Linked DNA regions of Homo sapiens: region 1 is linked to region 2. The links come from fine-mapping of genetic effects on gene expression. A gene starts in region 2. The other region holds a variant in brackets. All regions are shown on one strand. Distances are between the middles of the regions.

What was found. PIP is the estimated chance that this variant, and not a neighbour inherited with it, causes the effect. A credible set is the group of variants that fine-mapping cannot tell apart.
Region 1: its variant is the best candidate, but not a certain one, in a credible set for the expression of THRB-AS2 in pituitary (GTEx, PIP 0.86).

What each region holds. Positions count from the first base shown.
Region 1 is chr3:24,161,438-24,166,829 of GRCh38, reverse strand. The region is part of intron 5 of THRB (thyroid hormone receptor beta); the gene reads left to right. The region is part of intron 1 of THRB-AS2 (THRB antisense RNA 2); the gene reads right to left. Among named protein-coding and RNA genes, the nearest start is that of THRB-AS2, 13 kb to the right of the region's middle. The variant G/A (reference allele first, on the strand shown) is at 3,337.
Region 2 is chr3:24,149,209-24,154,600 of GRCh38, reverse strand. THRB-AS2 (THRB antisense RNA 2) reads right to left here and starts at 3,277. Exons shown (of 4, transcript NR_121667.1): 1 at 3,201-3,277. THRB (thyroid hormone receptor beta) reads left to right here. Exons shown (of 11, transcript NM_001354712.2): 6 at 2,111-2,211. RefSeq lists a silencer at 1,387-1,587.

The DNA of each region.
Region 1 (5,392 bases), 12 kb before region 2:
ACTGTTGAAAATTACAGTATTACATTGTTGATGGTCCTTTAGAGACAAATACCAACAAGGTCACATGCTCATGGACCAGCAGGAAGCCAAATGTAAACGTAACCACCTGAGGCCGAGCCCTGAAAACAAGCTGCCTAAGAAACGGAAGGAATCCCTAGTGTAGAAGAGCAGCATCCGCCCTTCCTGATGTCATGATCTACAACTATGCATATATGTGACATGCACACACTGGCCACCATCCACAGGGAGAAAATACCATTAGTAATCATCCTAGCAAGCATTCACAATCTAATTTGGTATTTGTTAACTCCTTAGTTAAAAGATATGATGATTCTTACAGAAAATGCTGTTCCCTTTTTGATCACTATCTTTAAGTAAGTACATGAATACCACTTAAATCACATTAAATCTTGAAAATAATCTCAAAAGCAGATTTGAATGGGAATAAAGTGGTAAGTGTTTACAGTTTTCCACGCACTACTGATCAGAGTACTGTTAAGCACCAACAGAAAAGGAAAGCTGCTATATAATAGGGGTATTCCTCATATAGGGGCATTGGCATACAGTCTCTCATGCCTTTATAAAGAAAACATAAATTACAGAATTGAACAGTTAATGTAAGCTTTAGGTCTCATGTAGATTAGTGCTTATGAAGTAGAAAATAATCATGCGCAAGGAACAGAATAAAACTCACTTGCAGACATCAGCAGCATTTTCAACCGTGTACTTCCTTGGCATGTTTTAAAAACCAGCGGGACCTATGTGTCATGGGAAGATGGTTGGATCCTAGTATGAAAACCCAGTCAGTAACATTCAACAACAGATTCAACCACCAATATTTGCACAGCTAGATTAATGTTTTGGAGTCAGTCAGTCATCAGGCTCATTACTACTGGATTTTCTCTGGTTCATGCTAATAAACTAGATTATTGATTTTAGGATTTTCTTTGTATCCAAGGATATTCTCTAAGATGTCTTTATAATGTTTCATGCTTAAGCTGTCAACCAAAATGACATAACAATGAGTAATCGTTTTATAATCATGTTGAAAGGGGTTAAAAACAGCATATAAAATGCATCTTAGCAGCTTCAGAGTAACATTCTCGCTGTCACTTCCCTATCTGGGTGGAGGTCATTCCTACCTGCCTGCCATCTTCCCCAGGAATTAACTAGCTGCATGCACAGCTTAAGACCTTTGATAGTCATAAATCTGCTTTCCAATATGTTTGGATGGCAGAAGAGCTCAAAAGACACCTCGGTCTAAATAGGATTTTAGCACATCAGGTGCTATTACAAAGTAAAGCAGGCTGGGTTGCTGTGTTGGTGGTGGTGTTTATTCATCTTCCCTTCGCGTTTCATGTGTATGTATGTATGCTTCTCTGCGTATATGCCCAGCTCTCAGGGTGTATGGGGCTGGAGAATGCATGCGTAGACTGTGTGTATATGTAAACTAGAAACTGAACCAGGGAAACAAAATGAACTACTGTATGCAAGAAATATATGAAGTGCACCCAGCTGCCGGCAGCAATTGCTACATGCAGTCCACTGATTATTACGCGTATTTTGAAGATAGTCCGGGTTACAGCGGTTGCGATGCTCAGGCTGTGCCCAGTAACAACATATATATGGAACAGGCCTGGGCAGTGAATCAGCCTTATACCTGTAGTTACCCTGGAAACATGTTTAAAAGCAAGGACTCTGACTTGGACATGGCCCTGAATCAATACAGCCAACCTGAATATTTCACTGAAGAAAAGCCTACTTTTTCTCAAGTGCAGTCGCCATCGTATTCTCAAAAAAAAGGTAGGGACCATTTTGCTTAAATTTGTTCAAAGTTTCACTGTTTGTTTTCGTTTCATTTTAAAGTTACAGTTTACATCAGCTTCGTCAAATCTTTGAATTTGAACGCTAAATATTTGAAATTAAAAACGGCAGTAAGAGGGGTTGCTAGGTGATTGAAGGACTCTGTGAACATCAAGATTTCCAAGCACTTTTTTTCTTCATCTTTGAAAGCTGGAGTGAGTTGCCTTTCTGTATTTTGCATGTGTGTGTATATATTGCCCAAAGTGACTATTGTTGGCTTCTTTGCGAAAGAAAATATGTGAAAGGTTTCCTTCTGGCGGGTAGGTGTTGTGGTGTTTGAAGTGAGATAATTCTCTCTAGTTCAGGTTCAGATTAAAAACTCATTTGACTTTTCCTTGGCACTTCATTTTGAAAGTTTATTTTAGTTGACTAGTTAACTAGTAAAATATTTAGTGATTTAGTGATTTCTTTAACAGTACTATACTAATGTTGATTTGCTAGGATCTGTAAATGTTCATTTTAATGTATTTATTTATCCATGTAAACAGTAAAGAATCTATTTGTAACCATGTCAAACTGTAAGATGTAAAACTCAAAAACTGAGAAACTTTACTTTGCTATTTTGTCCCTAAAGTTGAACATGTCTGTAATCATATCAAGTGAATTCTCTTTATGAAAGCAAGTGAAACACACTTCAAAATAGCCAATATTAAAACCAGTACGATATCCATTTATCTTAATAGACACTGTGGCTTTATAATGCTATTTAAATTTCTGTCAATAGAACATTTCTTGTATTACTGAAAAATAAGATACTGAAAAATAAAATAAGGGAGGCAAACAGGTAGAACATTAAGTAGCAACTGCCAGATAGGAATGCTTTTGAAGATAGTGTAAATGCTAGTGCAGATATGCCAGAATCTCATGCTTTTGTATATAATCTATAGGATATTGCATAGAGAACCAAATTTACGAGTTTCTATAATTTACAAAAACATGATGCCCTTTGATCCTCAAAGGTAAATTTCTCTGTTAAATTAATCTTAAAACATAATGTGGTTTATTTAGTTGTGGTTTCTATAAAATTTATCATTTGCTTTTCTTAATGTGACTTTATAATTGAAAGTAGTCTGTTATGAAAACAAATGAACAAAATTTTATAAAAACAAAAACTAGAATCTGTAATTTTTACTATATATAATGTTATTCTATAACTTCCAATCATGAAATATTAAGGGGATTACAGCATGAAATATATTTAGAGTTTCTCATCTTGATTTTTATTTATAAATATAGAGTTTTGCATCCTTTTGAAGGTCATCAGAATCTCATTTATTACAAGGGATACACAGGGTAAGTCCCCTAATGGAAACATTTGAGGTACATTGAACATGTGCTATTTCATTTAATAGTATAAGTAATTTAACTTTGAAAAGAAGAAATTAACATTGCCTCATTAAACATACTTGGATATGCCTTTTGTAGTGTTGTAAGAAAATATTGGTACCTGTCAATCTATGTGCTCATTCTGCT[G/A]TTCTTAAAAATTCCTGCAGAACGTTTCAGGCTCTTTTCTCTTTTATCTTTTCACTGTATTTTCTTCAACCAACACTGGGGAATATTTGCTTATAAAATGTTAAACCAGGGGTTCTTTATTAATTAATTTGATGCATGAACTAAAGGAAAAGACACATTGTATGCATATATTGATGTAATTTCAAAGCCATATGTCATTGAAAGGCCACCGCCACCTGCCAAACTCACTAAATCAAAACAGGCAAATATTCTTAAATGCACCATTATTTACTTTTACAAGTCTTCGAGTAAATCCCAGTAAAACTAAACCCAGCTGTTAACTGTCTCTTAGGACAAAAGGTTGTACCCAACATGTTTATCCATATTGATCCACTATTGATTTTTGTTGTGTTGAATGACATCAGTAGTGTCTCGTTAAGGCAAAATTAAGACCATAAACAGGTGTTCAGTGGGGTAGGCCTCATTTTCCAATTGGATTTTTATCTATTCACAATAGATAAAAGTTCATAATTGCTTCATCTGTGTTCATGGCTGTCATTACAGCTTTATAAACTCCAATACTGCAGCTGTGTTAACTTTTTCTTTATTTTTTTAAGGATGGCTTATTTCCTAGCCTTTATTTTCTAATATACAGAGAATCTTGTAAAAAAAAATTACAATCTTATAAAAAAATTATAGGTACAAACTGGTGAAATAAAGGAAGGCTACACTACCCAATGTTAAGAATGGTTATCTTAATTGGTAGACTTTAGAATAACTTTTAGTTTCCCTTGGATTGTTTTTCTACAAAGTTTTTTTTTTTTTTTTGCATTCATAGCCGACAGAATAAGTTATCAAGTTCTGGAAGCATTAAGAACACGAACTAAGGAAGAGTCAGATGTCAGTTCATTGAATCACATTTAAAATAAAGCTTCAAGAATTGAGGAGGGGAAAACCGATGTAATTTTCACATTGAGGAGGCCTAAAATGCAGAATGTAATGTCTGTCTTATTTTTCATATGGATTATGAAAAAACAAATTTTTAATTTTCAAAAGTTAGGGACAAATGAAAAGAACCCTATCATTCACTCAGAAGATATGATATTTACTGTAATTCTAGTGACATAGCTGTGAAATGCTATGCTAAGTCCTCACGGGGCCAGTGCTGGCTGCACACTTCTGGCCCCTGCAAATTCAGGAGAAGAAGGCAGTAAGTTTGGAATCAGATGGAGGAGAATTGGCAGACAGGTTATTTGTTGTGCTTTCTGCTCTGTGGCTGAGGTTGCAGCAAAGTAAAAAGTTGACTTTTTTTTCTCTTTTCTTTCTTTAAAAAAAAAAAAAAATCCTTTTGTGGGTGGAAGTGCTAGCTGTTTCCATCACAAATACTAATCACATTCCGAAGTTCCCGAACAGCCTGCATCTGCATCTGGCTGCTCTGAAGGCAGCTTTGCAGGTCAACCTCTCGATTTAGTCTGGACCAGCCGGGTCTGTTGAAACAGAAACCTTCCTAGGAGTCTGCCCTGGGCGACTCTCCTCCACGGGATTCTTTGCTTGACCTTCTACATGCCATCTTACTTGATAGGAATTGCATGTTTGAAAAGTTGTCAGAGATGCTTATCATGTCCAAGAGAATAAGAATTTCCTGTTTTTAAGCCAGGATCGAGGAGATGGGGGTGGGGGTGGGGGTGGGGGAGGGTTGTCCTATTCAGTTTTGGTTCTGATTGTATATGTTGTTGCTCTACAACCACATTTTTAATTGTGCAGGAATAAAAATTAATAACTGAAGCAGAAACTCCACACAGGACTGTGCTTTCTGAATCTGCTTTCATTGTTCCTCTGACTTGGAGATAGAATTCTGTCTGTGTGTGTGTGTGTGTGTGTGTGTGTGTGTGTGTGTTCTGTAGCTCTGTTGACTCCAGGTGAACAATTACATAGGCATTTGAAATGAAAATTAAGTAGCAAATTGGGGAATGTTTCTTTCTCAAGCTTTCCTTTCCTTTCCTTCTTCCTCTCCCTCTGTCTCTCTCTCCTACTTTCCCTCCATCTCTTTCTTCCTCTATCTTCTCTTTCTCTCCCT
Region 2 (5,392 bases):
TCATTTTTGTTAAAACCATACTAGTGAGTGTAAAGTGGTATCTCATTGTGGTTTTGATTTGCATTTCCCTGCAATGATGTTGAGCATCTTTTCATGTTCTTCCCTTCATTTTCACCTCTCTTTTTCTCATTGAAGAATGACCAAGGCTACAGAAACAGAACTCAGCTTATGAGTTTACAAAGGAAGAAACCATGTCTTACTCATTTTTGTATTTTCAGCACCTAGAACAATGCTAAGCACATGTAGATGCTAAATAAATGTTTTCTGAATTCATAGATAAATGACTGAATGAACGCGCAAAGCATTCTAGTTCCCTTTTTTCTCTGCCCAGATCCTTCCCAGAATTCCCTTTTTAAAAATGACTGACAAGAGTTTTGAAACCCTTGCAGTGAACTCAACAGATGAATCATGGTTTGCATGATGCAAAAGTAAACTAAGAAAAGCTGTGATATTTAAAAATATAATCCTGTACATTACTAAACCTCACTTTCAAGTCAATTATCTGCCTCCCAAGAAGGAACATTTTTCTAAATTAAAGTTGGAGCAACATAATTTCTAAGAAATTATGAAAAGGATTTATTTCATTCTGTTTCCTTAATGGCTTTTTTTCTGAAAAGCAAGACTTCAGTGACCTAGTTTAATAAAAGGTCTATGAAATGTCACGGTAAGATACACAGTAAGGCATCAGTCATTTCAACCTAGCTAATCTTTATTGGAACAAAGAAGACTTTGCTGAACTGAGTCAAAAAACTTCATAAGGACCATGATAGGGAGAAAGGATTGTTTCTCAGCCTCTTCCTTCTTCACATCCCAACCAATCCTGCCTCATTTTGATTGTTTGGTCTTATGTGAAGCTGTGTGATTCTATATATCACATAATTTATCAATGGTAAACCATTGATAGAGGGGAGAATGAACCTGCCCTCCTGAATCAGCATCTTGTGTCTGGGCATCCTCTCCACAGGAAGCTGAAGGAGCAAAGACAGGAGGGAAACAGGAGGCTTCTGCTTTTGTGCTTTTTAGCTTCCTGAGTCAAGGAATTTAAACTAATAAACTCATTGTCCACTAAAAAAGAGAGTTATCATAGTTGGATTTTCCTTTTTTCTTAATAAACAAAACCTCTGTCATTTCACACTATCCAGTGTTGTTGGATTGCATATCATAATATCACAAGTTTACCTAACTTTTTTAGGTGGCAAAATTCATTCTACTTAAAGTCAACTCTCCATTTTTAGAAAAAGACCAGCATATTACACTGGAGGGCTAGAAATTAAGAGACTGGGGTTTTAGTCCTGCCTGTAATTTCCAGTGAGACCCTGAGGAAGGCCAAACCTCTGCAGGCCTGTTTCTTCACCTTACAAGGACTTCGTCATCTCCCGGGACCTTTCCAGCTATAAAGTTTTCTGAATTCATTGCATGGTACTGTGATTCCAAAGTGGATCAAATCTTGTGAAAACAGGTTTTGAAATAAGCCTTGTTAAATAGATTGTGTTATCTAGAACTCACAGTGCTCAAATCCTGGCCTCTCTGCTTGAGTCACTGGCTCTACAGCCTTCCTGCCATTCCCACCTGCACAGCAAGTGATCACAGCTATCTTTCTTTCTTTCTTTCTTTCTTTCTTTCTTTCTTTTTTTTTTTTTGGCAGAATTTCGCTCTTGTCGCCCAGGCTGGAGTGCAGTGGCACAATCTCAGCTCACTGCAACCTCTGCCTCCTGGGTTCAAGTGATTATCTTGCCTCAGCCTCCTGAGTAGCTGGGATTACAGGTGCCTGTCACCATGCCCGGCTAATTATTTGTATTTTTAGTAGAGAGAGGGTTTTGCCATGTTGGCCAGGCTGGTCTTGAACTCCTGACCCCAGGTGATCCACCTGCCTGGGCCTCCCAAAGTGCTGGGATTATAGGTGTGAGCTATTTCTAAGGCATTCTGAAATCCTGGGCCTATGTTAACTCTATGAGTATAAAATTCTTACCGTTTGGTTTCACTAAGTCTTTACTGTTGTTACCTCTTCCTGGCAAGCCAATTTTGTCTCTGGCCTAGCAACCTTAGCTATAGTGTCTCTTTGACGTTAACATATTATTTTTTAATATTCCTTCTTTTATTTCCTTCACAGGGTACATCCCCAGTTACTTAGACAAGGACGAGCTCTGTGTAGTGTGTGGTGACAAAGCCACCGGGTATCACTACCGCTGTATCACGTGTGAAGGCTGCAAGGTAATTGCCCTGGGTCCACAAGCACAGAGCTTAGCCCAGCTCCAGTCCCCTCCCAGTCCTCTTCCAGAATGCAATGTTAAGTTTAAATTCAAATTAAAATCAAATTCTAACATCCATGGTCTGTGATCATCCAGGTGTCTGGTTGTGCTCTTCATTTTTGACATGTTCAAGAACTGAATTTTTTTCCCAAATCATAAATAACTAAATGAGTGTAATGTCTGGTTTCTTTACTTCTGCAAGTGTTTTTAAAACAGGAAGAGAATCAATAAAATAAAAAGAAATTAATAAAACTCTTACTTTGGGTTTAAAAAGCATAGGTCCTTTTTAACATGTTGTCATCCCGAGAAATGACTGTTTCTCTTCTTGTTTTATCTACAGTGTTGGAGGAGACAGAGTTTACTCTACCACAGGCTGTTTTCTGCTGTTAGTCTGAGTGAATATGCTCATTTTCAAGGGTTCCAATAGGGAATATCTTTGAGGCTACTTAGATTCAGTTATGTTCTGAAATTATCCAAGTTGGCTTTTCGCACAGCCTGCAGTGACTAAGTAGATTCTGGTCATCCATCGGCTAATTTTGTGCTGTACAGTCCTATCTGCAGGAAATACTTGACAAGAATATACCAGTGATCAGTCCATTCACTTCCTGAAACTGAACCTAAATTGGCCTACTTACAAGACTTCATCAACAAAATTCAGATAAGGTTTCTGGAAAATATCTTTTGGTCCAACAATCTAGCCTTGAAAATGAAATCTACCATAAAGGAAAAAGCTTGACCCAGTGCTGTATTTCGTGTCTGTTCAGCTAATGTTTCATAAATAAAGAAGTATTTAAAGTCAGGGAAGGACTTTTAAAATTGTTTACTTGTTAAATACCTTGTCTTTTTTACCTCTTATATTTAAAACTAAATTATCAAGATGTAAACCCTAAAGCAAAAATTGTATTAAATGTATAAAACATTTCACCTTCCCTCCTCTCTCATCCACCTTACCTCTTTTTCTCTTCTTCCGCTTCTCCAACTGCCCCGCTTTGTTCATACCCTTGCTCGTAAAGCCCCCAAATCAACATGTTAGCTCAGTTTCAAATTAAGGTGTTTTCCTTTTCCCTAGTGGAAGATTTTCCATGCAAATTCCCTATGTTTTTGTACGTGACATTAGGAAACATTTAGGAGAAGGCTGCTAAAAATGTTGAGATAATACATCCATTGGAAAGGGGTAATTTCTAAGGTTGCAAGACTTGCTTTTTGGAATGTGGTGTAACATGTTCTTATTTATCCAGACCCCTTTGATCTGGAATTCGTAGTCCTTTAACAAAGACTGGGCTAAAGGTTGCCATTACATCTATGAAAATAATGTCTTAGGGAATTTAATGAATCTAATTACAAGTAAGTTCTGGCTATTTATTAATTAGAGACTTGCAGACAGTCTCTTGAAAGTAGTTTTATTGGCTTGATTTGAAAGTAATAAAACTACATAACTTTAGGTACCTACTCTCATTCCAAAAGTTCGATAATTCAAACTAGACTTTTCTCTAAATTAGTCCCAATTCATAAGGCTTTCCCTACCTTAGTTGCAGCACTGAGATTCTTCTAAATCGGCGCATAATGGGAAATTTCGAATTCTGGGAGAGAGATCCTGATTCCATTTAATATGGAATTCAATTTAATACTTAATTCCCCAAAATGACTCTAAAGAGTGAATGTGCCTTACAGAGGACAATACGTTATTAGTGACTGACTTAAACAAAGAGAGAATTGAGCCTATTAACCTATATCCCTGCCTCACATATGTCTTCAGGATGATCAAGAAATCAACTAGCCTGTTTTCCCTAGATCACAGGATGTTTGGAGCCTGGATCAGCTGAGGTTTTCTTAAAAGAAGAAATCGTGTAGCAAAATCTAGATTTTTTTTCAGATTCTGTGACTTTGTCTCAGGTCAGAATCCTGTTTCTAGGGTTGCCTTCATTGTAAAATCAGAGAAGAGCCTTCCCAGGGTACTTGTGCGGATCACTTAATATAATGACAAAGCATCTTGGAAAAAGACAAACGAGTTTTTCAAGTGAAACACGGTTTTTAAGAGTGGTGAAAGATGAAAGGGTTAATTGTTTCCTATATCGTTTATTCAAACCTGTAATTTAAAAATATTTCTACCCCATACTTGCAATGTGTATGGAGAGAATCCTTTTTGCCAGTTTTCACCCTGAGAAGAGTGAAATCTTTTGGAGATGTCATGTCTGTTGTGATATCCAAGTTTTTACACATCTTTTGTAGAAAGGATATTGATACTGTCCCACAGCAAACTATTTTTAGAGAAAGAATCAAAGCTTTTCAACAGCTGCCTGAATAGTGAACTAGAAGAGTGAGTTATCTCCTTTTCACATTGATCAGTGAATCATCTCAAAGTACTAAAAAATGGATACAGTTCTTCTCAGAATACAAAGAAACATGTCTGATATTGATTTATAAAAGCAAGACCTCTTCTTACCAACAAATCATCAATGAAATATATGTCCTTATTTATTGCCCAGGGCATCTCTTTTGTCAGCTCATCTCTAAAAGGATTTTTTTAAAATAAGTAGACTGTTTTAAATGTCTTCAAGTCCACTTCCAAGAGTTAATTTCTGTTACTTTTTAAAATGAAGTGGTTCCTTATCATACATCAAAATATGCTTTAATTATAGCTTAAGAAAGGCCAACATTTTAAGAAGAAAATCAAGAAAAAACAAAAAAAAGAAAGGCCAACATCTTTAAAAGGATTTGGTCCATGAAGTGCCCAAGACAAGTCATCAGAGATAGGCCACAGAAAAGATGGCATAGTGTATAGTAGAGCTAGCTATCTCAACTCTTTTGTGGAAATAAGCAAAGTATAAATTATTTCATTCATCCCAATAAAAAGTGAACAGAGTGACTTTTTGGAGTGTCTGGTGTGTCACACCTCATTCTCTGCTTAGCGTGGTCTTACTGGTCAATGTACTCCTTGCCCTAAACCCACCCCTGAACATGAGTCAGCATCAGAGTATGAGGGAGACAAGGGTCTCCCCAACTTCAGATAGACTAACAATCTTCCTATCCTAGTAAGCCGTCAGCATTCTTACTGGATGTCTTGGACTTTGGTATTTCTACCTCTAGGAAATTATTGTTTCCTCCAGAAGGAGGCGTGCTACCCTACCCCTCCCCTCCCTGTC